Linked DNA regions of Homo sapiens: all the other regions are linked to region 3. The links come from fine-mapping of genetic effects on plasma protein levels. A gene starts in region 3. Each other region holds a variant in brackets. All regions are shown on one strand. Distances are from middle to middle.

Region 1 (11,084 bases), 160 kb before region 3:
CAACCAAACTAATAATCAAATCAAGAACTCAACCCCTTTTACAACAGCTGCAACAAAATTAAATACTTAGGAATATACCTAACCAAGGAGGTGGAAGATCTCTACAAGGAAAACTACAAAAAACTGCTGAAAGAAATCATAGATGATACAAACAAATGGAAACATATCCTATGCTCACAAATGGGTAGAAACAATATTGTGAAAATGAGCATACTACCAAAAGCAATCTACAAATTCAATGCAATTCCCATCAAAATACCATCATCATTCTTCACAGAACTAAAACAAATATTAAAATTCATATGGAACCAAAAATGAGCCTGCATAGCCAAAGCAAGACTAAACAAAAAGAAGAAATCTGGAGGCATCACATTACCAGACTTCAAACTATACAACAATGCTGGTAGAAGAGGTGAGGCAGGACTAGCTTGTCTGTCATAATGTAAAAGAGTCTTGGAAGATGTCTGGGGTCCAGGGTCTAAAACCCTTCGTGGCCTTTGGAACACCAAGCTCTATGCCAAAGGGTGGAAGGCTGCCCTGACATGCCAAAATCTAAGCCCAGGGCATAAAACCCCTTGTGGCTTGTATGGAATCCGGGGCTCAGGGCATAAACCCCCTTGTAGCCTCTGGAATGTGCACAGACTTGTTGGTTCCTTGCTTCTTACTTGTAAACATGTCCTCCATTATCTCAAGCAGCAGAGCATATTCTATATGCATCAAAGAAAATGCTAAACCATCACAGCTACGCTTAATGCACCACTACCTTTCTACCCCCACGTCCTCATGCCCTCACCTCTTTACCCCCACATCTGCACGTCCTCACCATCTGCTTCTTTGTTTGGTCTCCAATAAATAGTGTGGGCTCCCAGAGCTCAGGGCCTTCGCAGCCTCCAATCTAGTGTTGGCCCCCTGGACCCAATTTATGCACTTTTAACTTGTCTTTTCTCATTTCTTTCACCCCACCGGACTTTGTAGCCTGATGGCCTGGTGTTGGGCCTGATCACCCCAAAATTTCAGGCACCCAACGTGGGGCTATGAAGACCATGGTAAAGAAATGCTAGAGTATATGGAAATGAAGGACATATCATCAAAGGACACCCGAGGATGGCTGAAAGAAGCTTGGTGGGTAAGCTGGGCACTCTGAAGAACCAAGGTAACAATGGGACAAAATGAAAGTAAACATTCTGCTTGTTTAAACTTTCTAAGGCATTTATTATGGAGAGGGGGAGTGAAAGTTAGTACTCAGAATTTATTAACACTCTTTAGTACAGTGGAGCAGTTTTGCCTGTGGTTCCTAGAACAAGGGACAATGGAGTTCGATGAATGGGAAAGAATTGGCAGAGATCTAAAAAAGGTGCATAAAGAAGGAGCCAAAATTCCAGTTTCTTTTTGGTCAGTGTGGGCATTGATAAAGGCAGGTCTTGAGCCATTTCAAACAAATGATGAGGCAGATTCAGATAAGGAAGAGGAAAACGAGTGTAAAAAATTAACTTCAGATTCTGAATGTGGGGAACAGCAACCAGAGGAAATTAAAGAAAGGAAAACTAAAACAGATATATTTTAGTAGCCCGTTGGTTCCACCTGCTGAATTAAGTGAATGGCCACTTCCTTCCTCTCCCCCTAATGGTCGAGAAAATGAATTAGCTGCAAAACTTACTGCTCTGGTAGCTGCAACATTAAAACCTGGAGGAATTGGTGATGCTATACAAAATTCTATTCAGAAGGTTAGAGCTGAAGGAGACCTAGATGCATGGCAATTTCCCATTACTATAATCCAGCAAGGAGGACAGAATATAACTAATTGGACCACCTTTCCTTTTAAGTTGTTAAAGGAATTCAAGCAAGCCATTAGTCAATATGGGCCAAATTCTCCTTTTGTACAAACTTTACTAAAAAATGTGGCTCTTGATAATAGATTAATACCATATGACTGGGATACTTTAACAAAGTCTGTTCTCACTCCATCTCAGTACCTGCAGTTTAAAACCTGGTGGGCTGATGAAGCTCAAACTCAGGCAAGAGAAAACACACAAACACAGCCACCTGTGCTTGTTTCCTTTGAATGGTTAATGGAGTTGGGCCCTAATTGGGGATGATTAGACAATTAAGCAGTAATGGAGGATGTTGCCATCGGGATGTTCTGTCCGACAAGGACCTAAAGAACCATATACTGACTTTATTGCTCAGCTCCAAGAGGCTGTGCGTAAAGCTGTAACTGATAAAACAGCTCAAGACATGGTAATACAACTTCTTGCATATGATAATGCTAATGCAGAGTGTCAAGCTGCCATTAGACCTATGCAAGGGAAGCCTCATTTGGCTGAATATATTAAGGCTTGTGATGGCATTGCGGGTAATTTACATAAGGCTACTCTTTTAGCTCAAGCTATGGCTGGATTAAAGGTGGGAAAAAATATGCCCCATTTCTCAGGCTCTTGTTTTAATTGTGGGCAATTTGGACACACAAAAAAAGGAATGTAGAAAAGGAAATCAAAAGGCAAAAACTATTACCATCAATCAACAGAAAAGTTCCGGTGTATGCCCCTGGTGTAAGAAAGGCAATCACTGGGCAAATCAGTGTCATCCTAAATTTAGCAAAGATGGGCAACCTCTTTTGGGAAACGGGAAGAGGGGCCCACCTCGGGCCCCTCAACAAACTGAGGCATATCTGGCACAGCCAGTGCCCTTACAAAAGTACAACAATTGTATCCCACCACAGCAGGCAGTACTGTGTAGATCTTTGTAGCACAGTTCCCATTTCCTTACTTCCTGGGGAGCCACCAAAGAAGGTCCTCATGGGAGTTAGGGGCCCTTTACCCTCAGGAACAGTTGGTCTATTGCTTGGAAGGTCTAGTTTAAATTTAAGAAGTGTCACTGTACATACAGGAATAATTGATTCTGATTATACCTGAGAGATTCAGTTAGTTATTAGTTCCTCAATTCCATGGTCTGCTTCCCCAGGGGAAAGAATTGCTCAGTTGTTACTGTTACCTTATACAAAGCTAGGAAGTACTACAGTAAAAGGAACAGGAGGCTTTGGTAGTACTAACCCAGCAGGAAAAGCTATATATTGGGTTAATCAAGTGTCTGACAAAAGACCTATTTGTACAGTAACCATTCAAGGAAAAGATTTTGAGGGGCTAGTACATACTGGAGCTGATGTTTCTATTATTGGTTTAAATCAATGGCCCCAACATTGACCAAAACAAAAGGCATCCATTGGTATTGTTGGAGTAGGGGCTGCCTCAGAAATTTTTCAAAGTTCTTTAATTTTGCCATGCCAGGGGCCAGATGGCCAAGAAGGGACAATTCAACCTATTATTACACCTATTCCTGTAAATCTATGGGGTAGAAACTTATTACAACAATGGGGTGCTGAAATATCTATTCCTATGGATCAGTATAGTGATAACAGTAATCAAATGATGAGAAAAATGGGATATCTCCCAGGGAAGGGACTGGGAAAAAATGAAAATGGCCAAACAGAACCTTTAGAACTAAAAGGGCAAACAGATACAACTGGATTAGGGTATCATTTTTAGGGGTGGCCATTGCTGAGCCTCCGGGTCCCATTCCTCTTGTTTGGTTAACTGCCAAACTGGTTTGGGTGGAGCAATGGCCGCTGAAACAGGAAAAACTGGAGGCTTTAAAAGAATTGATACAAGAACAATTGCAAAAGGGACACATAGAGCCTGCTCTCTCCCCTTGGAATTCTCCTGTGTTTGTTATTAAGAAAAAATCAGGGGAATGGAGAATGTTAATAGATTTGAGGACTGTCAATGCTGTAATTCAACCCATGGGTGCACTGCAACCAGGGCTGCCTTCTCCAACAATGATCCCAAAATACTGGCCTCTCATAGTGACAGATTTAAAAGATCACTTCTTTACCATTCCTTTAGTTGCCCAAGATTATGAAAAATTTGCTTTTACTGTTCCTGCTATAAATAACAAAGAACCAGTGGACAGATACCATTGGAAAGTACTGCCACAAGGCATGTTAAATAGCCCGACTATTTGTCAAACTTATGTTGGAAAAGCTATTAAGCCAGTTAGAGAACAATTTTAAAAATGTTATATCATACATTACATGGATAATATTTTATGTGCAGCTGAAACTAGAGAGGAGTTAATGCTATGTTACAAACAGTTAGAAAAGGCTGTGACTGCAGCAGGGTTAATCATAGCCCCCGATAAAATTCAAACTTCTACTCCCTTTCAATATTTAGGAATGAAAGTAGAATAAAGTACTATTAAGCCTCAAAAAGTTCAAATTAGAAGGGATAATTTAAAAACTCTAAATGATTTTCAAAAATTATTAGAAGACATTAATTGGATTCATCCTACTTTAGGCATTCCTACTTATGCTATGTCTCACCTCTTTTCTACCTTACGAGGTGATTCTGATCTTAACTGCAAATGGTCCCTGTCCAAAGAGGCATTAGAAGAACTTCAATTAATTGAAGAAAAAATTCAATAGGCACAAGTGACTCTAATTAACCCTATGCAGCCATTACAGTTTTTAGTTTTTCCTACTAAACATTCACCAACAGGTGTTATTGTTCAACAGGATGCTTTGGTTGAGTGGCTTTTTCTACCTCACAATACAACTAAAATGCTCACTCTGTACTTAAATTGCTGTACTAGTAGGACAAGCAAGGCTGCGCACAACAAAGTTAATGGGATATAATCCAAATAAAATTATAGTTCCATTAGACAAACAACAAATTCAGCAGGCTTATATTAATTCCCAGGAATGGCAAATTAATATGGCAGGTTTTACTGGTGTTCTTGATAATCATTATCCTAAATCCAAAATATTCCAATTTCTTAAATTGACATCATGGATATTGCTTTCCATTACTCAAAAAACCCCTATTGAAAGGGCCATTACTGTTTTTACTGATGGATCTAGTAATGGAAAGGCCTCATTTGTGGGACCTCAACAAGTTTTTCAAACTGACTTTGCTTCTGCTCAAAGGGCTGAACTTATGGCTGTGATAACAGTGTTAAAAACTTTTAAATAGCCAGTAAACATTGTTTCTGGTTCAGCCTATGTAGTGCAAGCCACACAAAATATTGAACATGCCTTAATTCAAAATGTGACTAAAGACCAACTTAATGTTTTATTTCATTCTCTACAGCAAGCAGTACAACAAAGGCATTCCCCTTTCTATGCACTCATATGAGAGCACATACTAACTTCCCTGGCCCTTTAACTAAATTTAATCAAAGGGCGGATAATTATATGGGGAAGAGGATTTTCTTGTGTCTCTCCAGGTAACAATCAGGCACCTGTGTGGGTGCCCACCAAACATCTGGAGATCTATCATGAGCCACACCAGGAAGAGAGGGCTCTGGGAAGAGCCAGAGCTCCTGATATGAGTGATGGTACAAATGAACATCTCAGAGACAAAGGAGAAGACCAATGGAGGTATACACTAATGATAGTTTTTGGATGCCTGGTTCTACTGATGATAGAGGCCCATCTCACCCCCAAGAGGAAGGAACAATTATGAACGTCTCATTGGGATTTAAGCATTTACCTATTTGGTTAGGAAAAGCTAATGGGTGTTCACCTCCCAGTCATCAATCTTGGCTGGCAATAGTGCCTGAACGTAACATCT[C/T]CATAGCACAATTACATATGCTTTCTGGTCTTAGTATTTATCACCATGATTATGCTTCTGTAACTGAAGTTTACCACCCTCAGAAACCTATCTGTAAAGTGGACTAGACATGGTCAGAAAAAATGAAGGCATTTGCTTGGGAAGATTGTGTCACATGGAAAGCAGAGGTGTTGCATAATGATTCATATGGAGTCATTATTGATTGGTCCCCTAAAGGGGCATTTATGAGGCTCACCTCTCAATCTGTAAGTAATGGTCACCCTGCATCTAAACAAAATAATCAGATGGTGGACACTATAAGAAGTACAGCAAGAGATCCTATTATTTGGGCATGTGGTGGTATAGTGGTACCTCAGCCCCAAACGATATGGCCTGCTGTAGGGGCAAAACATAAGGAATTATGGAAAATATTAACAGCACTAAAAAATGATAAAGATTTGGAAAGGGAAATATACTAAGCCAACCCAATATAATCCTAATTACATGTTAAAATTGGCTCACAATGATTCAGTCTGGATACAGAGTTGTGTCCATCACCTTTCCTGTTTGTAGTGGGTGATTTAAAACTTGATCTCTTTAATCATCATGTGACTTGTCAATAATGTAGATTGTCTTCTTGTGTGAATTCTTCCTTATATAACACTGATCATTCTATTTTAATGGTAAGAGCCCAAGAAGGAGTATGGATACCTGAGAAGCTTTCCCATCCCTGGGAAGCCTCTCCTTCTGTGCATATTATTACTGAAATTCTTCAAAAGATTTTGAGGCACTCACGGCATTTCATTGCTACTTTAATTTTCATTATTATGGGATTGATTGCTGTCACAGCTACTGCTGCAGTAGCTGGAGTTGCTTTGCATTCCACAGTACAAACAGCAGACTATGTAAATAATTGGTAGAAAAATTCTACTCTGCTGTGGAATTACCAAAATAATATAGACCAGAAACTAGCTGATCAAATTAATGATCTCCAACAAACTGTAATGTGGCTAGGAGATCATATAGTTAGTTTAGAATATAGAATGCAGTTACAATGTGATTGAAATACCTCTGATTTTTGCATTACTCCTCATCTGTGTAATGAAACAGAGCATGAGTGGGAAAAAGTTAAGAGATATTTAAAAGGTCATACTAGAAATTTATCTTTGGATATTGCAAAGCTAAAGGAACAAGTATTTCAAGCCTCTCAGATACATCTGACACTAATGCCAGGAACTGAAGTGCTTGAAGGAGCTACAGACGGATTAGCAGCTATTAACCTGCTAAAATGGATCAAGACACTTGGAGGCTCTGTGATTTCAATGATTGTGCTTTTAATCTGTGTTGTTTGTCTTTATATAGTCTGTAGATGCGGAAGCCACCTCTGGAGAGAAAGCCACCACTGAGAGCAAGCAATGATAGCTGTGGCGGTTTTGCAAAAAAGAAAAGGGAGACAAGCGCCCAGCTATAGTTACCAATAAAGCATGGTACTGGTATTAAAATAGGCATGTGTTCTGTTCCAATGGAACAGAATAGAGAACCCAGAAACAAAGCCAAATATTTACAGCCAACTGATCTCTGACAAAGCAAACAAAAACATAAAGTGGGGAAAGGACACCCTATTCCACAAATAGTGCAGGGATAATTGGCAAGCCACATGTAGAAAAATGAAGCTGGATCCTCGTCTCTCACTTTATACAAAAATCAACTCAAAATGGGTCAAAGTCTTAACTCTAAGACCTGAAACCATAACAATTCTAGAAAATAACATTGGAAAAACTCTTCTAGACATTGGTTTAGGCAAAAAGTTCATGACCAAGAACCCAAAAGCAAATGCAATAAAAAGGAAGATAAATAGATGGGACCTAATTAAGCTGAAAAGCTTCTGCATAGCAAAAGAAATAATCAGCAGAGCAAACAGACAACCCACAGGGTGGGAGAAAATATTTGCAAGCTATGTATCTGACAATGGACTAATATCCAGAATCTACAAGGAATTCAAACAATTAGCAAGAAAAAACACTTGTATTGTGTTTGTTCTGTAAATCAGCAAGAAAAAAATCACATAATTTCATTAAAAAGTGGGTAAAGGACATGAACAGACAATTCATAAGAAGATATACAAGTGGCCAACAAACATATGAGAAAATGCTCAACATCACTAATTATTAGGGAAATGCAAATCTAAACCACAAGGAGATACTATTTTACTTTTGCAAGAATGGCCATAATTTAAAAACACAGATGTTGGCATGGATGTGGTGAAAAGGGATCACTTTTATATGGCTGGTAGGAATGTAAACTAGTTCAACCACTATGGAAATCAGTATGGAGATTACTTAAAGAATGAAAAGTAGATCTACCATTCTATCCAGCAATCCCACTCCTGGGTATCTACCCAGAGGAAAATAAGTCATTATATGAAAAAGGCATTTGCACACGCATGTTTATAGTGGCACAATTCGCAATTGCAAAAATATGGAACCAGTCTAAATGCCCATCAAGCAATGAGTGGATAAAGAAAATGTAATATATATATATTATACCCACACACACACACCATGGAATACTACTTAGGCATAAAAAGGAACAGAATAATGGCATTAGCAGCAACCTGGATGGAGTTGGAGAGTATTATTCTTTTTTTTTTTTTTTTTTTTGAGACAGAGTCTCCCTCTGTCACCCAGGCTGGAGTGCAGTGGTGCAATCTCAGCTCACTGCAACCTCTGCCTCCCAGGTTCAAGCGATTCTCCTGCCTCATTCTCCCAAGTGGCTGGGACTACAGGCACACACCACCACACCTGGCTAACTTTTGTGTTTTCAGCAGAGATTTTCACAAAGTTGCCCAGGCTGGCCTTGAACTCCTGACCTCAAGTGATCCGCCTGCCTTGGCCTCCCAAAGTGCTGGGTTTATAGGCGTGAGCCACCGTGCCCGGCCACATAGTGATGTTTTGATACATATAATATATAGTGATCAGATCAGGGATATTAGCATATCAATAATCTCAAACATTTGTCATTTCTTAGTGTTGGGAACGTTCAATAGCTTCCTTTTAGTTACTTGAAACTATATAACGCGTTATTGTTAACTATAGTCTTCCTACAGTGCTATAGAACAGTGGTCTCCAACCTTGTTGGCACCAGGGACCAGTCTGGTGGAAGACAAAAATGGGTGGGGGAGGGGGAATGGTTTCGGGGTGAAACGGTTTCACCTTAGATCATCAGTTAGATTCTTACAAGCAGCATGCAACCTAGATCTCTTGCATGCACAGTTCACTATAGGGTTCGCACTCCTACGAGAATCTCATGACCCCACTGATCTGACAGGGGGCTGCTCACTCACCTGCTGCTCACCTCCTGCTGTGTGGTCTGGTTCCTAACAGGCCACATACCAGTACCAGTCTGTGGCCCAGGGGTTGGGGATCCTTGGTATCAAATACTAGTACTTTTTCCTCTTATCTAGCCATAATTTTGCTTTCCAAAAGTTTTTATTTTATTTTATTTTTTATTGATATAAGATATTTTACATATTTTTGGTGCACTTTTTAAAATTTTTTATTTTGCAGTTGCAAGATTTAATAGAGTGAAAACAGAGCTCCCATACAAAAGGAGGGGACCCAAAGGGGGTTGCCCACTCCTGGCTCGAATACCTGGGGTTTATATCCAAATCATTTTTGCTCCCCCTGTGCTCTCAGATGATAGATGATTTGACTATTTCTTTACCTCCTGCTTTTAGTCTAATTTGTATTTTAGTGAGCCCTCTTTACTACCTGATTGGTCGGGTGTGAGCTGAGTTACAAGCCCAGTGCTTAAAGGTGGGTGTGATCACCTTCTCCAGCTAGGCTTAGGAATTCTTAGTTGGCCTAGGAAGTCCAGCTAGTCCTGTCTCTCAGTCCCCCTCTCAACAGGAAAACCCAAGTGCTGTTGGGGAGGTTGGCTGATGACTGCTCTGCTTCCTGCTGAATTTGGGTGTAGTAGGGGTCGTGCAGTTGAGAGTTCCTCAGGAGGGGTGCCTTTGATGTCATCAACATCGGAGCATGGGCTAGTAGGCTGGTCCAGGGGTCTGCAGTAGATCTTAGTCATGGACTGTATCTGGGGCTCCATTTGAAGAACCATTTGTAGTTTTACAGCTTCGATTCTGGAAGAGACAAACTTAACAAGGAGGTTAAAGATACACGGATTGAAATGTATGGCCTGAAGTGCAGGGGCATATGGGTGTGGGTGGTGAAAGTGGGGTTTCCTTTAGAAAAACTCCTATACAATGGGGCATCAATATTTCCGGGAAGCCGCATTCTCCATAGAAGCTCTTGGTAAGGGGAACTACTGGTAGTACAGCGGCATAGAGGAGGTGCAGTGAGCATGAAAGAGGGTAAGAGAACAGTAAAAAGAAAAATATGACAAGGGAGGGTCATGGGGATCTATGATTCTAGTTACTTTCCTCACGGTTGTTGCTTGAAGAGCAGGCGCAGATCCTCTAGAGGTTCACAAGAATAGCTAGCATTGTCTCCTGGATTTTCAGGTTCCTTTGGCAGTATCCAGGGTTTGACTCAAGTGTGATGTATCCAAGACTCCACTCCAACCACTTTAACTGTGGTTGGGGTAGATAAAATGACTGGGTAGTGTCCATCCCAGGATGTGTCTAGGGATGGGGAATTAGAAGGAAGGGACTTGACTAATACCATGTCACCGGGGTGGAATAATTCCTTTCCCTCCTCTCGGGGACAGGTTCCCTGTAGTGTTTTAAGAACTTGTTGATATTTGGCTAAGGAGGTGATGTCTGCAACTAAGTTGGCAGTCTCTCGGTAAAGCACAAGGTCATTGGTTAGGAAGGGCTGTCCATACAACATCTCGTATGGGCTAAGTCCTGCTTTCTGGGGAAAGTTTCGGATTCTTAGTAAGGCTATAGGCAACACAGCAGGCCATGCAAGGTGGGTTTGTTGGGTTAGCGTTTTTAGATGTCATTTGAGTGTTTCATTCATTTTCTTTTTTTTCTGTTTTTTTTTTATATTTTTTTATGTTTTATTTTTATTTTTTTAAATTTTATTATTATTATACTTTAAGTTTTAGGGTACATGTGCATAATGTGCAGGTTAGTTACATATGTATACATGTGCCATGCTGGTGTGCTGCACCCATTAACTCATCATTTAGCATTAGGTTTCATTCATTTTCTCAACTTTTCCTGAGGATCGTGGCCTCCAGTCATAGTGTAAGTGATATTGTATGCCTAACACCTGGGATACTCCCTGGGTTACTGTAGCCTTGAAAGCAGGGCCATTGTCACTCTGTAAGCCTCGGGGAAGTCTGAATCTGGGAATTATTTCATGAACTAGTGCCTTCATTACCTCTTGAGTCTTTTCTGTTCTACAAGGAAAAGCGTCCACCCAACCAGTGAAGGTGTCTACCCAGACTAGTAGATACTGAAATCCCTGAGATTTGGGCATGTGGGTAAAATCTAGTTGCCAGTCTTCTCTTGGGTAA
Region 2 (11,084 bases), 550 kb after region 3:
GTAAATCAGGTTTTAGTGGCAACACAGGTTTTGGGAGGGGAAGAAGAGGAGGCTTGGCTAGCCAAGGTGGTCTTGTTATGTAGATGAAACCTCACAGGTAGCAACCCTCAGAGAGAAGACATGGCAAATGTTTCTTTCAGATCTTTAAAGATGTCAGACTCCATTAATCTCTCCTAGATCTGGACAAGGGAAGAAGCCTTGGCTGCATTAAAGGAGATTCTCTACAGATGCAAATTTCCCCCACAAAGGACAGCTTTGCAGGGCCACCTCAGTCTGCTGGCCCTGTGACAGCCATCTCAAATTATGTCAAAGTAATATATTTTATCTTTTTCATTCCTCATGACTTAGTTTGCTCTAGAATGTGGGTAGGTGGACCAGTTCATCTTGAGGCCCCTTCCTGATCTCTGAGCACAGGCTTCTGTGCCCCTGACCTTTCTGGGCAGTCCCCTGGGAGGTTTTGAGCAGGCATGCCCGCTACGACTGCAGCAGCTCCTTTGAGCTAGGCTGGGCTGTCCAGGTCATTTTTTGTGTTCATTTTGCATCCCAGGAGAGTGGCCTAGTCCTAGGAAAAGAGCCTGGTCTTGGAGGGCTTGGCGTGATGGAGGCCCAGTTGCTTAGATGTGGCATTGACTCCTCGCTTGGAATACAGAAAGTAAGGGAAGCTCCCAACTCTATGGGAAACAGATAAAACCAGCCAGTGACATGGCCTCCAGGTTTCCCCTGCCCTTTTTATTTTTTATTGTGGTAAAATACACATAACATAAAATTTACCTTTTTTTTTTTTTTTTTTTTTTTTTTCCCCAAGACAGAGTCTCAAATCTGTCACCCAGGCTGGAGTGTAGTGGTGCAATATTGGCTCACTGTAACCTCTGCCTCCCAGGTTCAAGTGATTCTCCTGCCTCAGCCTCCCGAGTAGCTGGCACTACAGGCATGGACCACCACGCTTGGCTAATTTTTTTGTATTTTTAGTAGAAACAGGGTTTCACCATGTTGGTCAGGATGGTCTCAGACTCTGGGCCTCAAGAGATCTTCCTGCCTCGGCCTCCCTAAGTTCTGGGATTACAGGTGTGAGCCACTGCACCCAGCCAAAATGTACCATTCTTAAGTGCATAGTGCAGTGACGTTAAGTATAACCTCACATTGTTGTACAACCATCACGACCATCCATTTCCAGAACTTTTGTTTTCCCCAACTGAAACTCCTTACCAATTAAACAGTAACTCCCTACCAATTAAACAGTAACTCACTATTTTCCCCTCCCCCCACCCCTGGCAACCACCATTCTACTTTCTGTCTCTATTAATTTGACTATTCTAGGAACTTCATATAAGTAGAATCACACAGTATTAATCCTTTTGTGACTGGCTTATTTCACTTAGCTTAATGTTTTCAAGGTTCATCCACGTGATAGCATGTGTCAGAATTTCCTTCCCTTTCAAGGCTGAATGAGATTCCATTGTATGGACACAACACATTTTTTGTTTATTCATCCATCAGTGGACACTTGGGTTTCATCCATCAATGGACCCTTGGGTTGCTTCCACCTTTTTTGGCTACTGTGAATCGTGCCGCTGCAAACCTGGGTGTTCAAATACTGGTTTTCTGATATTTGAGTCCTTGCTCTCACATCTTCTGGGTGTATACCCAGAAGTGTAATTGCTGGATCACATGGTAATTCTGTTTAATTTTTGAGGATCACCATACCATTTTCCACAGTGACTGCATTATTTTACAATCCCACCAGCAATGCACAGGGCTGCAGTTTCCCTGCATCCATGCCAATGCTTGTTATTTTCTTGTTTATTGTTTTTATTAATAAGCATCCTGATATGCATGAAATGGTATCTCACTGTGGTTTTGATTTGCATTGCCCTAATGATTAGTGATATTGAGCATTTTTTCATGTGTTTGTAGATCATATATAGATCTTCTTTAGAGAAATATCTGTTCATGTCCATTGTCTATTTTTTCATCAGGTTTTTTTTTTTGTATTGTGGTAGTTTATATATTCTGCATATCAATCCCTTATGGCATATATCATTTGCAAAGGAATACTCTCTAAATTGGCCTGAAAGAACTGAGAGAGCTTAGGAGAGAGTTGGCCTGGGATGGGGTATTGGGATCCACTCACTCACCTACCCACCGTCCATCCTTAATTAACTCTGCAGTACTCTGGTTCAGGGTGGTCTGGGAATACAAAGATGGAAAAGGTACAGTCACTGACTGTGGTGTGCTCATAGTCTAATGAGGGACACAGGCTTGTACCACTAACACTAACGTACAGAGAGTCAAAGCAATGCTGGAATAATTGGGCATATGCTGATGTTGTTGGAAAATCCACTAATTCTAGATAAGAGTGGGTATCCCAAAAGACACTGTCAGTTCCAGGGGCAGGAGGCCAATTCTGTCAGATGTAGAGAAGGGAGGACTTTTCAGGCAGAATGGTCAGATGAAGGGCTCAGGGAGACTGAAAGGACGCTGACCTAGGTGAGGCTGGGTGAGGGGACAGGGACCTAGCTGGAAATCCAAGGAGGAAAACACCCAAAGGAAGACCTTCTAGAAACTCCTGAGGGCATAAGATGTCCCAAGGGAAAATTCCTGTGGCCATCTCAGAAGATTGAGTGTCACCCTCTTCTGTCTGGTTCAAACTTTAGACCTCTGAGCTAAAAAGGGGGCTTCATGAAGACCTGGAGCAGGGGAGAACAGAAATGGAAAGGATTTGGGTCATCTATTTTCAGAAGCAGAGGACAGAATTCTCATCTGGTGTTCAGTAGTCTCAGAAGTAAATGGGTCCATGGACCAGCAATCCTACAAGACCTTTATAAAATTCTGGAACCTTTTAATTACCTTACATTTATTTTGGGGTTTAGGGTGCATGCGTGTTACTGCTTCTTTGTGTTTTCTTCAACGCATGAAGCCAATGTTTAATGAACCCCTATTGTGTGCCTGACACTGTTCTGGGAGCCGCCTCAGTGAACAAGCCAAAGACCCTGCCTTGAGGGAGCTTCTTCCGAGATAGCCCACACAGTTGTGTCCTAGGCCACAGCCTGGCCTTGGAGTGGCTGTGGATATCAGAAAAACCTCCAGAATTGAGTACATGGGCACAGCTTTACAGAAGAGCACATGGTGCCCCTGGGATGCAGCAGAGAGGAAGGGAGTCTGTCCAGACCTGGGGCTAGGGTAACCAAATGCACTGGTTCCCCCGGACTGTCCTGGTTTTAGCATTGAAAGCCCTGCATCCCGAGAAAACCCTCAGCCCCAGCACACTGGGACAGTCAGTCGCCCTACCTGGGACTGAACAGCTGGAAAGTATGGTCACTTCTCCATGAGGCACAGCAGGCATCGTGCCACAGGCACACACGACTTTAGAGGTCCACAAAAACGTTTTAATTTCTTTAAAATCATGAGAAAAAAAATGAACATTTAGGTTGAAGAAAGTGTTTTAATATAGGATATTGATGTATTTGTCTTTATACCGATGCAATCATAGAATATAATTTTCAGTGGGTTTTTTTTAATGGAGGAAGGGGCCCTTGGCCCCAAAGACAAAAGTTCTTAGGACCCATGAAAGTCATAATGTGGCCTTGGCTGAAGGGCCTATCGGGAATCAAGGTCCCATATTGGGTCCCCACTGACCAAGCTTTGGTCAAATGACTACTGAAGATGATAATGGAAAAATTTGGACAAATGACTACTGAAGATGATGATGATCATGATCATGATGATGATGGTGATGATGATAATTTGGATGATGACGCACTAGCTAACATTTATGGAGTGCTTACTGTGTACTTTGTGCTAAGCACTTTGAGGCCTGAGATCTCATTTCATCTTCACAACAAATGTATAAACTGCATTTCACAAAGAAATCAGTCTCCGTGTGGTGGCTCATGCCTGTAATCCCAGCACTTTTGGAGGCCGAGGTGGGCGGACTGCTTGATTTTTTACCTTCACATCAATCCCGTGAGGCAATAAAGGATTTTTATCCCAAATTTATAGATGAAGAAACTGAGGCATATAGATTTTCTGACTTTCTCAAGACCATGTAGTGAGTAATAGGAGTCAGAAGCCAAATACACACTCATGTTCATCCTGCAGGTATTTACTGAATCTCTGCTATGTGTCAAGCTGGCACTGGGATCTGGGACGCCATAGAGGGCAAGACAGGCACGGGTGCTTCTCTCACGGAACTCAGTATAAATGGAAATCCAAGGCTCACTACTGCACTGTAATTCCTAGGAGAAATTAAGACCTCAAGAACCACTGAAGCAAGTATTGAGCAAGTATTTCCTATTTGCCTCATGTTCAGAGCCACCAGGCATAGAGAAGTAGTAGCAGTGGATGTAAGTCATTAAAGAGCTTCAGTCTAGTTGGGAAGAAGACCCGAGATGGATGGTCTACTTGGAAGTTAATATAAGTAGCCAGGCGTAGTGGCTCACGCCTGTAATCCCAGCATTTTGGGAGGCCAAAGCGGGAGGATCACTTGAGGCCAGGAGTTTGAGACCAGCCTGGGCAATATAGTGAGAGCCCCATCTCTTAAAAAAACAAAATAGAAATCGGAGTCTTAGTGAGGTGGACTTGATCAAGTTCACAGAAGACCAAGGGCATGGCCAGCACAGGCCACCTGTGGCCCAGCGTGCAAGGCAGCATGGTCTAATGGTGAAGAGTAACAGCATCTTTCTTGTTATTTAGGGGATTAAATGAGATCAGGACCTTGAACCCTTCAGGGCAGTGCCTGACTACTGTCGGTTTTTAATATTATAATGAGGCTCTGCAGGGGCTTGAACTTAGGTCCCTGTAAGGGAGCTACTGTTCCCTGGTATAACCCACTCTAGCTGAGCTGTGCAGAGACTGAGATGGTCACCTCAAAGAGCAGGGGACCCCGTGTCCAGACTCTGGGGCATGCTGGCAACCTGAGGAGTCTGCGGGAGTGGCCTGATCTGTGCTGCTTGAGGCTTTTTGTCCCAGATCACACTGTACTTGCTCTGGTGTGCCACAGC[G/A]CATCCATCTCTGTCTTCCCTTCTCAGGTCACCTGCAGACTCCCAAGGACAGGGTCACATCCCATCTGCGTCATCTCTCAAGGTGCCTTTCACGATCCTCACCCATAGGCAGTTCATTCAGTTACTACTGGCGGACTGTTGACATTGACCATCTGCTCTACGTTTTTGTCTTTGGAGACTTGAGTCTCTTTCCATTCTCAACCTCCACCCGCCACCTCTTTTTTCCCTCTGCTCTGTTAATACACCCTACCAGAGCTGCTCAAATTCCACATGGAGCAGAAGCTCCATGATAAAGCCCCTTCCCTGCTCTGCTGCAAATAACCTATTAGGGAACACAGTTAAGGAGTTCCCAACCCTTTTAATTTTGGGACAATGGACAGTGCCATAGAGGGACCTGTGGAAATCAACCCCTTCACTGCTGTGGTGGGTCTGTGGAGTCCATTTCAGAACACAGGCCTTCGAAGACCTGGGAGGGGGCCCTGCAGTAAGGCCCCATAGGGATTCCTCTTTCTCATTTGGTTGAGACCATCACAAAGGGACCAATGACTTTTTTTTTTTTTTTTTTTTTTTTGAGATGGAGTCTCGCTCTGTCATCCAGGCTGGAGTGCAGTGGCGCAATCTTGGCTCAATGCAACCTCTGCCTCCCAGGTTCAAGCGATTCTTCCGCCTTAGCCTCCCGAGTAGTTGGGATTACAGGCGCACGGATAATTTTTTTGTTTTTGTTTTTGTTTTTTTTTTTAGAAGAGACAGGGTTTCATTATGTTGCCCAGGCTGGTCTTGAACTCCTAACCTCACCTTTGAATGCGGTTTGGACATTGAGCAGGGTATTTCAAATCCAGCCCAGATAGATGGGTGTCTGCCCCTTGCCTGCAGACGTTCCCATCTAGGGCAAGCACAACAGAAGCACCGGGTGTTTGGGGTGTGGAAGGCAGCTGCAGATGGACATTCTCCTGTAGGAGGGGCCTGAGGCTTTCCTCCCTGACTTAAGCCTGGAGATGGCTTCCTTCCAAGGGGTGAAAGAATTGCTGCTGACAGATTTGCTAAGAGCTGAGAAAGAGGAAATGTGGCAAAGGCTCATGGTGAATGGCTTCCGGGGTATTTTTTGTTTTGTTTTCTTGAGTTGTGTGTGTTAAGAATGCGTAGACCGGCTTGGGCTTGGCTAAGATAGAGTCTTGCTGACAATAGAGAAAAGTGGTGAGCAGTGAAAAAGTAAAGTCGTGGCGGTTAGAAATGTTCTTTGTGCTCCTTTAGATTGGTTATTCCTGCTGCCATTCAGCCATGCTAGCTAGCCTCCAAGAGGCCCCCATCTCCACACCCAATTCTCTGAAATAGAAGAGGAAGCAATGATGAGAAAAAAACACCACCCTATCTTATGTGTAAAATCTTAGTCCTGCGAAGGGGCCCTTAGAGCTTCTCCAGTATCACTTCATGATTTCACAGATAAGGAAACTGAGGCCCTGAGAGGGGAAGTAGCTCCCCAGACGTCACAGGTCATTTGATGGTCTTGCATTTGTTCTCATCAGCTAGCTGCCAAGAGCTGAGCCACACGGCTAACGCCAAAGTCCAAAGCCTGGTGTGTGTTCTTGGTATCAGACCCTCAGGGTGCAGCTGAGTGTGAGGTGCTCCTGGACCTAGGGGTCTGGGGTGGGCTCTGGCCTGAGACTCCCCAGGCTGTCTTGCCCTCCCCTGCCACCCAATCAACAGGTATTTATCTGACACCTACTTAAAGTTTGGCCCAGGTTTCAGCCAAGCGGGGTGCCAAAAAGCTTAGGCACCAAACTAATGTCTGCCTCCATCCAGAGAGCATCTCACTGGGGAGATGGGATTAACATGTGAAACAATCATTAAACAATAAAAGGCAGCATATAATTAGATGCCAGCTGTAGCCACACAGGCTCTGAAATCACCTCTATAGGCTCTTGCAGTATGGATTTAACATTAGCCAGCAGCTGCAGAGATCTGTGACGATGGTAATTTGTACTTTTGCTGCAATGGGAATCTGAGGCTTTGAGGCCATGGGGCTGGTGTTTGGGAGCGAGTCACAGAACCAGGGGGTGAGCCTAGCTGTCTACCTCCATCCCTACCCCAGCCAGCTTTGTTGCCTCCTCATTGCAGAATGGAGTAAAGTGAGCAAAATCCAAGGAAGTGCCCAAGCCTTTGTCTTCTTGTGAAAAGTGTCCATGAAATGAGAGTGAAGTTACAAAGGCCCATTAACTGGTGGTGTGAGGAAATACACAGGAAACATAGGAAGTATGATTCAGGAGAAAGAGAGACCAGGACAAAACTGTGATTACCTTTCTCCATGTGGGAATCAAAATGCCAGGGATCTGGTACATTAAGAGAGCAGAGGATGGAGAGATGGCTATAGACTGGAGAAATTGCATTGGGAAACTACATAGAGAAGGTGGAACTAGGGCTAATAGTGTTCTAGGCAGGAGACTCTGCACAAACAACAGCATAGAGCAAACTACTGCACATGGCCAGGTTCCATAAATAAAGTTTGTTTTGTTTTTGAGACAGGGTCTTGCTCTGTCACCTAGGCTGGAGTGCAGTGGCACAATCACGGCTCACTGCAGCCTTGAACTCCTGGGGGCTCAGGTCATTCTCCCACCTCAGCCTCCTGAGTAGCTGGCACTACAGGTGCACTTCACTGTGCCCAGCTAATTTTTGTATTTTTTTTTTTTTGTAGAGACAGGGTCTCACTATGTTGCCCAGACTGGTCTCGAACTCCTGGGCTCAAGCGATCATCCTGCCTTGGCCTCTCAAAGTGCTGGGATTGTAGGTGTGAGCCACCATGCCAGGCCCATAAATAGTTTTACTGGAACCCAGTCACACTCATCCAGTAGCTGCTTTTGTGCCACAATAGTAGAGTTGAATAGTGGCAACAGACTGCGTGGCCTGCAAAACCTAACATTTACTGTCTGACCCTTTACAGAAAAAGTTTGCCAACCACTGGTGCAGAGAAAGGAATTAACAAACTCTATGGGCATGTGGCCAATCAGAAGAAGGACTCAAGGAAAATGAAAACTGAAATTGGCTCAGAGGGGTAGAACTTTGCTTTCCTGGGATGATAGTCACCATACATGCCTTTGAATGGGTTTGGTGATTTTCAGAACACTTTTGTACCCATTATCTCATTTGATTTTTACCTTCACATCAATCCTGTGAGACAATAAGGGATTTTTATCCCAAATGTATAGATGAAGAAACTGAGGCTTAGAGATTATCTGACTTTCTCAAGATCATGTAGTTAGTCATGGGAGTCAGAAGCCCAACACACACTTGTGTTCATCCTGCAGGTACTTAACCCCTACTATGTGTCAAGCTGGCACTGGGATCTGGGACACCATAGAGGACAAGACAGGCGTGGGTGCTTCTCTCACAGAACTCAGTCTAAATGGAAATCCAAGGCTCACTGCACTGTAATTCCTAGAAGAAATTAAGACCTTTTTTGTCCACTGTAGGCAATAGGGGATCATTGAAGGTTCTTGAGCAAGTATTTCCTATTTGCCTCATGCTCAGAGGCACCAGGCACAGAGAACAAATTGAAGTATGATGTAAGTCATTAAAGAGCTTTAGTCTAGTTGGGAAGAAGACCTGAGATGGATGAGTCTACTTGGAGGTTAATGTAAGCAGCCAGGCGCGGTGGGTCACACCTGTAATCCTGGCACTTCGTGAGGCTGAAGTGAGAGTATTGCTTGAGGCCAGGAGTTTGAGACCAGCCTGGGCAACATAGCAAGGCACCTCATTTCTACAAAAAAATAAAAAAAATTAGCCAGGAGTGTGGCACATGCTTGTAGTCCCAGCTACATGGGAGGCTGAGGCAGGAGGATTGCTTGAGCCTAGGAGGTCGAGGCTGCAGTGAGTTGTGATTGCACCAGTGCACTCTCGACTGGGTGACAGAGGGAGACATCTCAAAAAAAAAAAGTGTGTGTGTGTGTGTGTGTGTGTGTGTGTAAGTAGATGCTTACTTAAGTGCCAGATAGTATAGTGTTGCCTTTAGATGTAGGTTAGCTTTAACCTTCCTGTGGCTCACTTTCCTTGACTGTAAAATGAGCATCATAATAGTATTTTTTGTGACACATTTGCTGTGATGATGAAATGAGCTAATACATGCTAAGTGAGTAGAATAGTGCACGGTACATATTAGCTGTAGTGAATCATCGTCATCATTCAGGGCTGGAGTGATCAGGAAGAGCTTGACAAATAAAGTGACTTCTGATGGGCAAACAGGTGTGAGATGATTCAAATCGTGGGCCAGAAGGAGGAAAGACTGACAAATTTAAAAAGAGTGAGAGTGAATTTTTTAGCAAAAATTAGGTTTGTGATTTTGGTCAAGAAAAAGTAGGCACGGATGTATATAATAGCTGCAGTACTGCCGGTGGGACACACGTCCTCCTCAGCCCACCCTCATCCTGGGGACCCCCTCTCATTGCCACAGCATTCCTGGGTGCCCTGGGCCCACCTGGGAATACCAGAAGCCACGTGACTCACTCAGAGCCTCTCCTTAGGGCATTAGGTCACTCTCCAGTCACCAAAATTAAGATTACATATGTCATTGATTAGAGTGCAGAAGTAGGGTTTTGTTGCTGTTGCTTTAGTGATAAAATAAAGAAAAACAGCTTAGGGCAAATCTGCCCTGAGTTAGGCCCCAGACGAAAGGGGTATGGTCCTCCTTATTTTGTTAAGAATATTTAAATGGAAGCATTAGAGAATCACTCAGGGTCGGGGTGTCGCTGTGAACCCCTAGCACCCAGCCTCTTTACATGGCTGTTCCCCAATCACCTCCAGAGCTAAAAGAAGACATTGCCCTTTTCCACCGCATAGGACATGTGAGCACAAACCTGTTTTTCACCAGTGCCCTGGACATGCCAAGTGCATTGGGAACAGCTCAGCCATCTGCCACCAATGCCAGGGGCTTAATCGGAATAGATGAATTCCATGCCAGATGCACTGAGATGTGTGAGCCCCCAGGAGAGACACCTCACATGCCAATGTCTATATTTGTTAAATCATAACAGAGTTCCCTATTCTGTCTCTATCTTGGGCCACCCCAAGAGGCAAAACTGTCTGCTTGGTTTCTCGCTTTGTACCCGTGGACAGATCCTTAAGAATCTGGCAGGTGAATAGGAATCAGAGTCTTTGTCTTATCCTCTGAAGATTGCTATAGTATCGATCTCGCTCTCATGGCAGATAGTGCCTGTTAGGTAAACCTTTGGGGTGTTTGTGTGTTTCTTGGCACCAAGTGTTAATTCAGCAGCTGGATGAAGACCCTTGAGGTCTGGAATTGTTGTGAGGGGTCTGTCTATTTCAGTTCTTTTCGAATGTTGCTGCGAATTAAAATCAACTAGGAGATTTTTAAAATTCCCATGCCCAGACTGCACCCCAGACCAATTAAATCAGAATCTCCAGGGATGAAGCCCAGGCAGCTAAGTTTCTAAAGATCCCCCAGATGATTGCACTGTGCAGACAAGTTTAAGAACCACTGGTCTGGATTATACGCCATCTCTTGGGTGGAAAAAGGATCCGTGAGCCCTCGTGGCTGTGGCTGGCTGGCCTAATTCAGGAGGTGATTCATTTGGTCCATGGGTCACATCTTGTCTGCCAGATATTTTTGTGGGCAGCAGCCATCCCAGACCTGGGTGCTGGCATTCCATGGCTGTGACATTCGTAGTGTTGGCTACACACGGGGCTCCTGGCACTCCCAGACAGGGCTTCCCATCACCAGCCAGAGGGCCAGGCCTCAGAATGGTGAGGTCAGGGCTGCTGTCTTTTGAGTCAGCCCTGGAAGGCAGAGGTGCCTGTGGCCACTTGCGTCACTTCCCCGCGTTTGTGGTGGGAAGGGGAGAGATAGATGGGTCTATCTGCTGAAGAAAGGGGAACAGGAAGAAGAAACCCTAGGCTAAGGCAGCTTTGCTTCTCACTGTATTCAAAATCAAGCCTTTGAAAGCCACAGCACAGCTGCCTTTTCTTACGGGGAAATGGCTCTAGCTTGATTGGAAACTATGAGAGGAGATCTTTCCGAAGCTTCTAGAATTTTCTTTCCATTACTTATTTTTTATAGACAAGTATGAGAAAGCTATT
Region 3 (10,774 bases):
GCAAACCTGATTGTCCACAATGACCTCATGAGGCACACCAAGATAAGTGTCATTTATCAGGCGCCAGCCACAGTCCCTGCCACCCATTGTGGGTCAGAGGTTGGCTTCAAAAGAAACTCAGGGATAAACAATTGCCCCAGGAAATTACTCCCAACTTTTCTCCCAACCGATGGACATCTCTAGCCTTGGGGTTTCCAGAGACATTCTGTCTCTGGGACTTGTCCTGTATCGAACAAGACATCTTTCTGTAGCTCTTCTTTTCCAATCCTCACTGAAACTTCTGAGTTACCTCTGGACAAATGGACCCACCCATGCCATTGTGCCCCACCAGCCCCACCTGTGTGCACCAGGAGATAAGGCTACCAAGCCTCCTTGAAACAAGCAGACTATCTACACTAGAACCCGACTCACCTCCCTGCTCAGAAATAACCAATTAAATTAAACTTCCCCTACATTCCTTTGGGTGTTCCAAAGGAAGTGAGTCATTATGTCAAAGATTTCTCTTTTCAATGGCTTTCTTTCTATTAATTCTGATCAGTATGAAAGTTACTCTCTTGGACAGCAGCCACATTTTAGTTCTTCCTTGGCTTTGCTCTATCTCTGCTATAAGCAGTTCCACGGCTGACTCAAAGATGGAGAGTGGAAGCTGGTGTGGCAGGGATGGCCAGTTTCTGGAACCTAAGCCCCCCTTCCCCAGAGTACCAGGCTTGGCCTCCCAGGACTAGCCCCCAGACATTCTCTGCTGGTGCTCCTGGCCCCACTTACTGCAGGCTGGGCTAGTGCAGTACACAGAGGGGACCCAGAGGTTGGAGGAGCCAGTGTCGAAGATGACAGTGAAGTTCTGTGGTGGGGAGCCAATGGAGATAGTGCCGAAGTATTCCATCTGCAAGGAAGAGTGAGAAGGAAAGAGGGTGTGGGTGGTGGGGAGGGACAAGGGTGCTCACCAGGAAGCCAGGGGAAAGCTCCCAGGGGCCAGAGCCTGGGGTAATACAGACTGGAGTTTACAGAGCCTAGGAAGTGGCAACGCTGGAAAATAAAAGGTAAAAGGAGCAGAGAAATGGCCATGAAGGAGGAAATCAAACCAAGCCTCTGGCTACTTCATTTGATTTTACTTGCACTAACCTGATTCTTATAAATACATTGTAGGAGAGGCAGTGGAGGAAGAACCATCTGTTTTACAGACCAGGGAACTGGGGCTGGGAGAGGTTAAGTAACTTGCCTAAGGGTACACAGCCAGTAAGCTGCCCAGCTGAGAGCAGAAGCAGGGGCCTTCAGTGTGGGATGATGCTTTCACTCCCAGCCCTTTCCTTCTGCAGAGAACTCTGACATTTGGGTACATGGGGGCCTGCTTAGCCAACTCCATGGGGACCCAGGGAATCAGTCCCCATGGATCATCATCCAAGTGAAGAAATCCACAATGGCCTTCGGTGCTACTGATGTGGCACTGGCCATGCCCTAATGCTGGGCCTTCCTCCCGCTCCCACCTCTCCCCAGCCCTGACCCCAGGAGGCCTCACATCCAAGTAGTTGATGAGGGGTTCCTTGGCACTCTGGTCCATTGAGCAGGACTCGGTGAACTGGATCATGTCCAAATTATGGGATTTCCAGAACTCAGAGAGCTGGCTCCGTGCCCGCAGCTTCTTCTTGAGGGACGGATGCCTCCTGAGGGGCACCCTGGAGACAAACCCCCATGTAAGCAGGAGATGTACTTCTGCCTCCCTCTTCCCCCCATTCTCGTCCCATTTTCTCAGGGGCCAACTAGAGAAGATGGGGTGGGAGGGGGGGATCTGCAAGACAGCACGCAGGATACAGGTGGGATCAGCGTCCTCTCTGCCACTCAGCCTGCCCGGCCTCATCTCTGCCCTATAGAGTCTTAGAATCTTAGAGTGGAAATGGCTCCCCTCCTGGAGCTGAGGTCTTTGAGATCTAGGAAAATGGGAGATGTGGGGCGGTCTACAGTTTTACATGAACATCACGAAGGGCTGATTTAAAGGGACAGAAAAACTCTTGGGGACAGTGATGGTCAGTCCCCTGGGGAAGTCCTGGGGCGCTTTGAGCTACAAACCACAACTGCAGGTTCCTGCTCTTTTGCAACACAAGAAGACCCCTGGGACTTGGGAAGGCACCTCCGTGGAGGTGGAGGCAGGAGGATGACTTGTTGAGGACTGGAGATTAAGGCCATACACAGGCGGTCACTGGATGAGTCTCTTCCATGCATTGACGCAAGCCCTCAGCTTCTCCTCCTCTTCACCTCCCCATCAGCTTTCCTACCCCAGAGCAGCCCTGAGTTGCAGGGCATGGGACTACCCAGCTGAACACAGTGCGGGGACGTCTTCTCACCTGTGAAGGGATCCTTGGGCCTCTCCCAGCTCCAGGAGCACCAGCAGCAAAAGAAGGAGCGTTTTCATTGTGAGTCCGACCAGCAGCTTCTCCCTTGCCCCCTCCTTTCTTCTCTCCCCGAGGGCAGTGGGAACGGACTTTCCCTAACTCTCAGACCTGCCCAGCCCAGTCTGAGGGCCGAATGATAAGGCCCTGGAGTCATTAGCCATGCCCAGAGTAAATACGGCATGTGGAACAGGGCGTTCCCCCTGCACCTCTCCGTCCCTTTCCCACCTACAAGAGGAATATGAGTCTGCGGGGAGAACTTGGGAGTCCTCTGGGGCTTGGCTTCTCTCAGGGCTTTGGCACCTCCTCTGACCCCAAGAAACCCTGTTAATGAATCCGGAGGGCAGCACATGCCTGGCTGCCTGGAAAGGCCCACTGAACTCTTACTGCAAGTGCTCTAGCTGGAGACTCTGGAGGGGTGGGAGCTGACTTGTCATGGGTGGCAGGATTCTAACTCAAAATATTCGTCAGTCTGTTTTCTGGGTGATTCCTGTTCTCTCCTCAATCTCTCAAATGCTCCAAAGGCAGTTTATCCTTCCCTGGCCCACTTTGAAGCACAAACCAGCACTCCTCAAAGGCCCTGAAATGGGAAAATGTAGCTGCAGATTTATGGAGCCCACTCTCCTGACTCTAAGGACTTGATGAATCTGGGGCTGGGGCTCAGGGGTGTGTGGAGGAGAATGCAGGGGCAGCGAGGGAGGGTCAAGGGGGTCAGCGTCTACAGCAAGTGCCCGCATGAGTCTACTAAAGCGGCCATGACAAAGTACAGGGGGCTTAAACAACAGAAATTTATTTTCTCACTATTCTGGAGGCTGGAAGTCCAAGATCAAGGTGTTGGCAGACTTGGTTGCTTCGGAGGCCTCTCTCCTTGGCTTGCAGATGGCTGCCTTCTCTCTGTGTCTTCACATGGGTCTTCCCTCAGCGTGTGGCTGTGTCCACATCCACATTTCCTCTTCTTATAAGGACGCTAGTCATATTGGAGTAGGGCCCACCCTAATGACTGCGTTTACCCTTAATACCTCTTTAAAGACCCTATCTCCAAATACAGTCACGTTCTGAGGTACTAGGTGTTAGGACATCAACATGGATTTTGGAGGACAAAGTTCAGCCCTTAACAGTGCTCAGGGACAATAGGATCTTCTATCTGTCAAGTGGGACTAAGCGCAGGGGTGGAGAGTGGGTGGGGCTCAGGCCTTAGTTACCGCAGTGTGTGAAACCCCCTCACCATCAGCCTATCTCTGTGGCCACCCGCCTCATAAACAGATGGTGGGGCTTCAGTGCCTGGGGTGGGGATGAAGGGGTTACAGGTAGGAAGACCCTGACCCTGACTCAAGTTAGCCAGGGCAGCAGAGGCCACCACCATATGCCAATGCTTCCAGAGGGCACTAGCTCAGCAGTAGGAAGTAGATGGCCTGCGTTTAGGTTTAGCTCTGCCCTGACCAGCTAGTGTTCTGGAAAATCTCTTAAGTGCTATGGGATCTGCCTTTCATCTCTGAAGTTCAAATGGCAAGCAAACGTGGAGTATGGAGCTAAGCCAAACCCACCCTTGGGTCCAAAAATGTTAAAAAAAGACATCAAAAAGACTTAAGGAACAGCCTAGACCTTTGACCCCTGAACCCAAGGCAACAAAGCCTCTTTGGCATTTCCCAGGAGCCCGTCTTGTTGATCTTTCACTGGGGAGAGTGGTCTAAACCTAGAAGGGCAGCTTGAGTCAGAAGTGGCTAGAAGTGGAGATCATTCATTTTGGCAGTAAACTCTGCCATGTTTTGCCCGTAACTGCTTATTCACCACATACCTTAGTTTTGTCATCTGCCAAATACCTTACCTACATCAATGGGTTTTTAAGGAGGATTAAACAAACAAAATAAGGTACAGATATACTTGTTGTACTGCACTCTGCTTTACTGCACTTTGCAGATACTGCTTTTTTTTTTTAATTGAAGGTTTGTGGCAAACCTGTGTCAAGCAAGTCTATCAGCACCATTTTTCCAATACTGTGTGTTCATTTTGTGTCTCTGTGCCACATTTTGGTAATTCTTGCAATATTTCAAAGTTTTTCATGATTATTTTATCTGTTTTGGTGATCTGTACTCAGTGATCTTTGATGTTACTGTTGTAATTGTTTTGGGGTACCACAAACTGCACCCGTGTAAGACAGAGAATTTAATAAGTGTAATTGTGTGTTCTGATTGCTCCATTGCTCTACTAACTGGTCATTCCCCCATCTCTCTCTCTCCCTCTCTTTCTCTCCCCCTCGGGCCTTCCTGTTGCCTGAGACACAACAATATTGAAATTAGGCCAATTAATAATTCTACAGTGACCTCTAAGTGTTTAAGTGAGAGGAAGATTTGCATGTTCCTCATTTTAAATTCAAAGCTAGAAATTATTAAGCCTAGTGAGGAAGCCATGTTGAAAGCCAAGAAGGGCTGAAAGCTAGACCTCTTACACCAAACAGTTACCCAAGTCATGAATGCAAAGAAAAAGTTCTTAAGGGAAATTGAAGGTGATATTACAGGGAACACACAAATGATAAGAAAGCAAAATAGTTTTCTTGCTGATATGGAGAAAGTGTTATTGGTCTGGATAGAAGATCAAAGCAGTGACAACACTCCCTTAAGTCAAAGCCAAATCCAGAGCAAGGCCCTAACACTCTTCAGTTCTATGAAGGCAGAGAGAGGTGAGGAAGCTGCAGAAGAAAACGTGAAGCCTATGGAGATTTCTGCAAGGTGAAGCAGAAAGTCCCAAAGCAGAAGCTGCAGCAAGTTATCCAGAAGATCTAGCTAAGATCATTGATGAAGGTGGCTACAATGAACAACAGATTTTTAGTATAGACAAAATAGCCTCATACTGGAAGAAGATACCATCTAGGACTTTCATACTAGAGAGAAGTCAATGCCTGGATTCAAATCTTCAAAGAACAGGCTGAATCTTTTGTTAGGGGATAATGCAGCTGGTGACTTTAAGTTGAAGCCAATGCTCATTTGCCCATTCTGAAAATCCTAGGGCCCTAAAAAACTATGCTAAATAGAGTTTGTTTGTGCTGTATCAGTGGAACAACATAGCCCTGGATGACAGTACATTGGTTTACAGCATGGTTTACTGGATATTTTAAGCTTGCTGTTGAGACCTACTGCTCAGAAAAAAAAAAATTCTTTTCAAAATTTTACTGCTCATTGACAATGCAACTCATTGCCAAAGAGCTCTGATGGAGATTTATAAGGAGATAAATGTTTTTATGCCTGCTAACCCAATATTCATTCTGCAGCCCCTGGATCAAGGAATAATTTTGACTTTCAAGTCTCATTATTTAAGAAATGCATTTTGTAAAGCTATAGCCACCATAGATAGTGATTCTGATGGATCTGGGCAAAGTAAATGGAAATCTTCCGGAAAGGATTTACCATTCTAGATGCCATTATGATTATTCATGATTCATGGGAGATCAAACTATAAAATTAAAAGGAGTTTGGAAGAAGTTGATTCCAATCCTCATGGATAACTTTAAGGGGTTCAAGACTTCAGTGGAGAAAGTAACTGTAGATGTGGTGGGAATAGCAAGAGAACTAGAAGTGGAGCCTGAAGGTGTGACTGAATTGCTGCAACCTCATGATCAAACTTGGATGGATGAGAAGTTGCTTCTTATGGATGAGTAAAGGATGTGGTTTCTTGAGATGGAATGTATTCCTGGTGAAGATGCTGTGAACACTGTTGAAATGCCAACAAAAGATTATGAATATTGCATTAACTTGGTTGATAGCAGTAGTAGGGTTTGAGAAGATTACTCCAGTTTTGAAAGAAGTTCTACTGTGAGTAAAATGCTATCAAACAGCATCATATGCTACAGGGAAATCTTCAAGAAAGGAAGAGTCAATCTATGTGGCAAACTTCATTGTTTTCTTAGTTTAAGAACTGGGCGCTGTGGCTCGTGCCTGTAATCCCAGTATTTTGGGAGGCCGAGGCGGGCAGATCACCTGAGGTCGGGAGTTTGAGACCAGCCTGACCAACATGGAGAAACCCCATCTCTACTAAAAATACAAAACACCTGGGTGTGGTGGTGCATGCCTGTAATGCCAGCTACTCAGGAGGCTGAGGCAGGAGTATTAATTGAACCTGGGAGGCGGAGGTTGCAGAGAGCCGAGATCCTGCCACTGCACTCCAGCCTGGGCAACAAGAGTGAAACTCCATCTCAAAAAAAAGAAAGAAAGAAAGAAAGAAATTGTCATGGCCACCCCAAACCTGGAGCAACTACCACCTTGATCAGTCAGCAGCCATTAATGTCCAGGCAAGACCTCCGCCAGCAAAAAGGTTATGACTCCCTGAAGGCTCAGATGATTGTTAACATTTTTAGCAATAAAGCATGTTTTAATTAAGATGTTTTTAGACATAATGCTATTGCACACTTAATAGACTACAGTACAGGGTAAACACAACTTTTGCATGCATTTTGAAACCAAAAAACTTGTGTGATTGACTTTATTGCAATTTTCACTTTATTGCAGTAGTCTGGAACCAAACCCACAGTAGCTCCAAATGATGCTTGCATGTGGAAGTTCTTGAAAAACTGTAACATGTCATGTGAACTAAAGATTGTCACTAAAAACTTCAGTGTTTCAGAAGTGCTGGAAGGGTTCTTACAGACTCTCAAGACAAACCCACTTGTATAGCAGAATGAGAAAACTGAGGCAGAGAGGCAAAGTGATCAGCCCAAGAGCACATGGTTCATTTAGTGGCTGATCTAGGATTAGGACTCAGCCCTCCTGACTTCTAAGCGGGCAAACTTTCTGCTACAGAATTATAGCATCATTATCACTGAACTGTTGAAAGGGGGCTAACCATAACCCCTCCCTCCTTTTCCATCTTTTAGACCTCTCCCTGCATCCCTCTTGCCCCTGTTTACTAAATGTAGAGAGTTTGCCTGGCCCAGGCTTGAGAAAAAGCTGACTGGTCCTTGCAGCTGTGGGCCACCTGACTACTGAGTGGAGCAGACACAGCCTCGACTGCCTGCAAGGAGCCCCTGGGTCTAGCTGGATTTTGGAAAATTTGACAAAGGTTAAGAGCAGGAACACTGGGGATGTTTGTCAGAGCTAATGGGATCTGTCCTCTCCAGAGACACCAGGAACTGAACCTACCCTGGCTGTAGATTACTGGCCTTTTCCAGCAAGAACCAAATATTGCTGTGGACAATTTGAACACTTTCCAAAGAACAAAAGACCTTAGGCATATGTGTGGTTGTCTGTGTGTGTCCTTTGAGCAGAGGGAGAGAGAAGAGCATTTGAGGTGAAATAGTATGATGTGGGGGAAAGTGACACATAGTATAGTCAATGATCCGGTCTCTCTGCATTAGGAGAGGGTCTTTGGAGAGAGAGAGAGAGGGGTGGGGGGAGAGAAAGAGACGCTCAAGAACGTGGATTGGAGGCTGGCTGGATGTAGAGACTTTGTTCCCAGAACATTTGAAAGCTGGTGGTGGTGTCACTATCTAGTGAACTTCTTTCTGGAGCTTCAGCTTCCAGAAAGTAAATTAATAATAAGAGGACATTTGGGAGGCTGAGGTGGGCTGATCACTTGAGGTCAGGAGTTCAAGACCAGCCTGGCCAACATAGTGAAACCTTGTCTCTACTAAAAATACAAATATTAGCCAGGCATGGTGGCACGTGCCTGTAATCCCAGCTACTCAGGAGGCTGAAGCGGGAGAATCTCTTGAACCTGGGAGGCAGAGGTTGCAGTGAGCCCAGATTGCTCCACTACCCTCCAGCCTGAGAGGGCAACAGATGTCTCAAAATAAAATAATAACAATATAAGAGGACAGTTGCTCAGTGCTCTGTGGATAAGTTTTATCAGGGCTCGATAGCTCCTAGAACAGAGTCTGTTACTGTCAGACATGAGCTGGCTCCTGCTCACAGGGGAGCCGGCACCGCAGGATGCACTCCAGGATGCCTGACTCTTGCAACACATTGCTGGTTCAGCACAAACCTGGCCAACTGGGAAATGGCCCAACCTCTTTTGCTTAAAGTTAGGAAATGAGGGAAAATCCACGATGCTGTGTGTGGTACAGTAGAAAGATGTCTGTACCAGGTGAGATGAGATGAGATGAGATGCCTGGCTCCAGTCCTGGCTCTGCCACTAACTGGCCATATGATCGCAGATAAATCCCTTCTCTCTGAATCTAGTTTTGTTGCCTATAAAATGAAGAGGCTTGATTGGGTGACAATATCAAGGAATACTTTGGAAGCATTAGCTCTGTGCTAGGCTCTGAGCTAAGGGACTTACAAGCATTAGTTCATTCAAATCTCTCACCAATCCTATCAGCTAGGTATTGTTTTTAAGCCCATTTTACAGATGAGGTAATTGAGGCACAGAGGGTTTAAGTAACTTGCATAAGGTGCTGAAACCAGGATTCAAACCCAGGTTTGCCTTTGAAGTCAGTGTTCTTAACTGTGGCATTGTATTGGGTCATCTTTGAGGTCTGACATTCTAAAATTTCTTTCTGGAAGAGAAAGGCACCGAGGAATGGGAGAGAGGAAAAGAAGAGAGGGACAGAGAATAATTTCTTGCATGGTAAAAATTGGAGGCCTTCTTTTATTGTAAGAACAAATGGGTGTGTGCATGGTGGGGTGTGTCGGTGAGGAGCTGCATGATGAGATATCTTCTCACTGCATATTTTTCAAACATTTTCTATTTTGCCATCAAGGAGTCTCTCAGCAAGGGAGACTATTGTATTGCCGACAGGAGCAAAAACTCCCACATGTACCTTTCTCCAACTCCCCACCTTCGACACATTCTGAAAAAATAAAATTTAAGGTGCTCAAACCATTTTTTTATTGCCAAAAGAGAGCACCTGGCACTAAAAGCTTACTTTTTCCATGTGTCTTAATATACTTTGGTTTGTCAAAGCCTCTTGTTTTCATGCAACTGGAAATAAGAAAGATTCAATGTCTTCAGTATCTCCCAATGTCAAGGATTCAATTTGTTGGAGTCATTTCCAAAACCACCAGCAATTCTACTCCAGGAAAGTGCCTTTCAGACCAGCCATTGCTACAGCACAGTCAGCAGAGGGCGCAGGCACTGGGAAAGTTTCTCACTTGAATACTGCCTGTGTGTCTTTGTGGCGGGAGAGTATGTGTGTCTGTACCTGTAAGCAGGAAGAGCAGCTTATGCCTCGGGCTTGCGCAAAAGCAGGACTGCACACTAACACCACCATCTGCTTTGCTTGTTACTGAGCCCAGGCTTTGGAAGCAGACAAAGCAAGGTCTGAATTCCCAACTCTGCAACTTAACAGATGATTGCATGACATTGGGGATGTGCCACAGCTTCAGATTCCTTCACTACAGAAAAGAAAGAATGATTTCCTTGCAGAATGGTCTGAAGATTCCATGAGACCATCTTCAGGATGAGTGCTTTCTATATATTACACAGCCCAGTGCTTGACATCAAGTAAGCCCTCATTACGGGTAGCCTGGCTAAATTCCACTTTATGCCATGCACTGCTCTAAGTGCTTTAAATGTAATAGGAAATAGGCCCAGACAGGGAAAGGAATTTGTCCAAGGCCACACAGCAGGTAATCATGGAACTAAGCATGCTGAAGCTCAGGAAGTCTCTCTACAAAATCTGTAATGTTGGCTGGGCACCGTGGCTCACGCCTGCAATCCCAGCACTTTGGGAGGCTGAGGCGGGTGGATTGCTTGAGTTCAGGAGTTCAAAACCAGCCTGGCCAATATGGCAAAACTCCATCTATTAAAAATACAAAAATTAACCAGGCATGGTGGCTTGCACCTGTAGCCCCAGCTACTCAGGAAGCCGAGGCATGAGAGTCGCTTGAACCTGGGAGGCGGAGGTTGCATTGAGCTGAGATTGTGCCACTGTACTCCGGCCTGGGCGACAGAGCAAGACTCTGTCTCAAAAGAATCTGTGATCCTAAACACAACTCTCAGCTGCCATGTATAGTTTACATATTATTGTGTATATTAACAGACTGAAATACATTCTGAAGGTCATTCACACTGATGTGTATTTTAATTGTTCAGGACAGTTGCTGAAGCTTCCACCTGTCCTCACTTCTTACTCTGTGATTAGGGGCTCAACTACTGAAAGGCTACAAAATAAATATACTCTTTGATACATAGTTTCCTTATCTGCCAAATGGAGTTGTTAGTTATTAGAAAATTAAATAAAAGCATATGTGAAAATGCATGACACACAGTAAAAGCTTAATAAATAATTAACATTTTATTATAAGAAGAGAGAGTATACCATAGCAAATATGCCATAAATCTGATTCCTTCCCTCCGTTAGTCTCCATGAGTTTTCTTTTTTAGATTTATAGTCACAGGGGCCTCCCTCTGCAGTGCTCCTTTCTTTAATGTTTTATTTCCTGTACCAGGACTGCCAGACT

Alleles and levels. Alleles are on the strand shown, and positions count from the first base shown. The strength of an association depends on the size of the effect and on how common the allele is.
For the plasma level of the protein whose gene starts at base 2,511 in region 3, C is the high allele of the variant in region 1 and T is the other (weak association).
For the plasma level of the protein whose gene starts at base 2,511 in region 3, allele A in region 2 goes with a lower level than allele G (weak association).

What was found. PIP is the posterior inclusion probability: the model's chance that the variant is causal. The UK Biobank Pharma Proteomics Project read protein levels with antibody pairs (Olink). The fine-mapping took linkage between variants from a reference panel, not from the people measured, so its PIPs are less certain.
Region 1: its variant is fine-mapped to the plasma level of the CTSE protein (UK Biobank, PIP above 0.99).
Region 2: its variant is fine-mapped to the plasma level of the CTSE protein (UK Biobank, PIP above 0.99).

The regions. Positions count from the first base shown.
Region 1 is chr1:205,857,168-205,868,251 of GRCh38, forward strand. PM20D1-AS1 (PM20D1 antisense RNA 1) reads left to right here and starts at 4,912. Exons shown (of 3, transcript NR_046097.1): 1 at 4,912-5,431. It overlaps LOC107985250 (a long non-coding RNA gene), which reads left to right. Exons shown (of 2, transcript XR_001738417.2): 1 at 1-412; 2 at 976-1,456. The variant C/T (reference allele first, on the strand shown) is at 5,625.
Region 2 is chr1:206,569,307-206,580,390 of GRCh38, forward strand. All of the region lies in intron 2 of RASSF5 (Ras association domain family member 5), which reads left to right. It also overlaps a transcript of EIF2D not described here. Among named protein-coding and RNA genes, the nearest start is that of EIF2D, 38 kb to the right of the region's middle. RefSeq lists an enhancer at 6,552-6,601. The variant G/A (reference allele first, on the strand shown) is at 5,001.
Region 3 is chr1:206,021,385-206,032,158 of GRCh38, forward strand. It overlaps CTSE (cathepsin E), which reads right to left and starts at 2,511. Exons shown (of 9, transcript NM_001910.4): 1 at 2,340-2,511; 2 at 1,517-1,673; 3 at 766-883. The coding sequence starts at 2,407.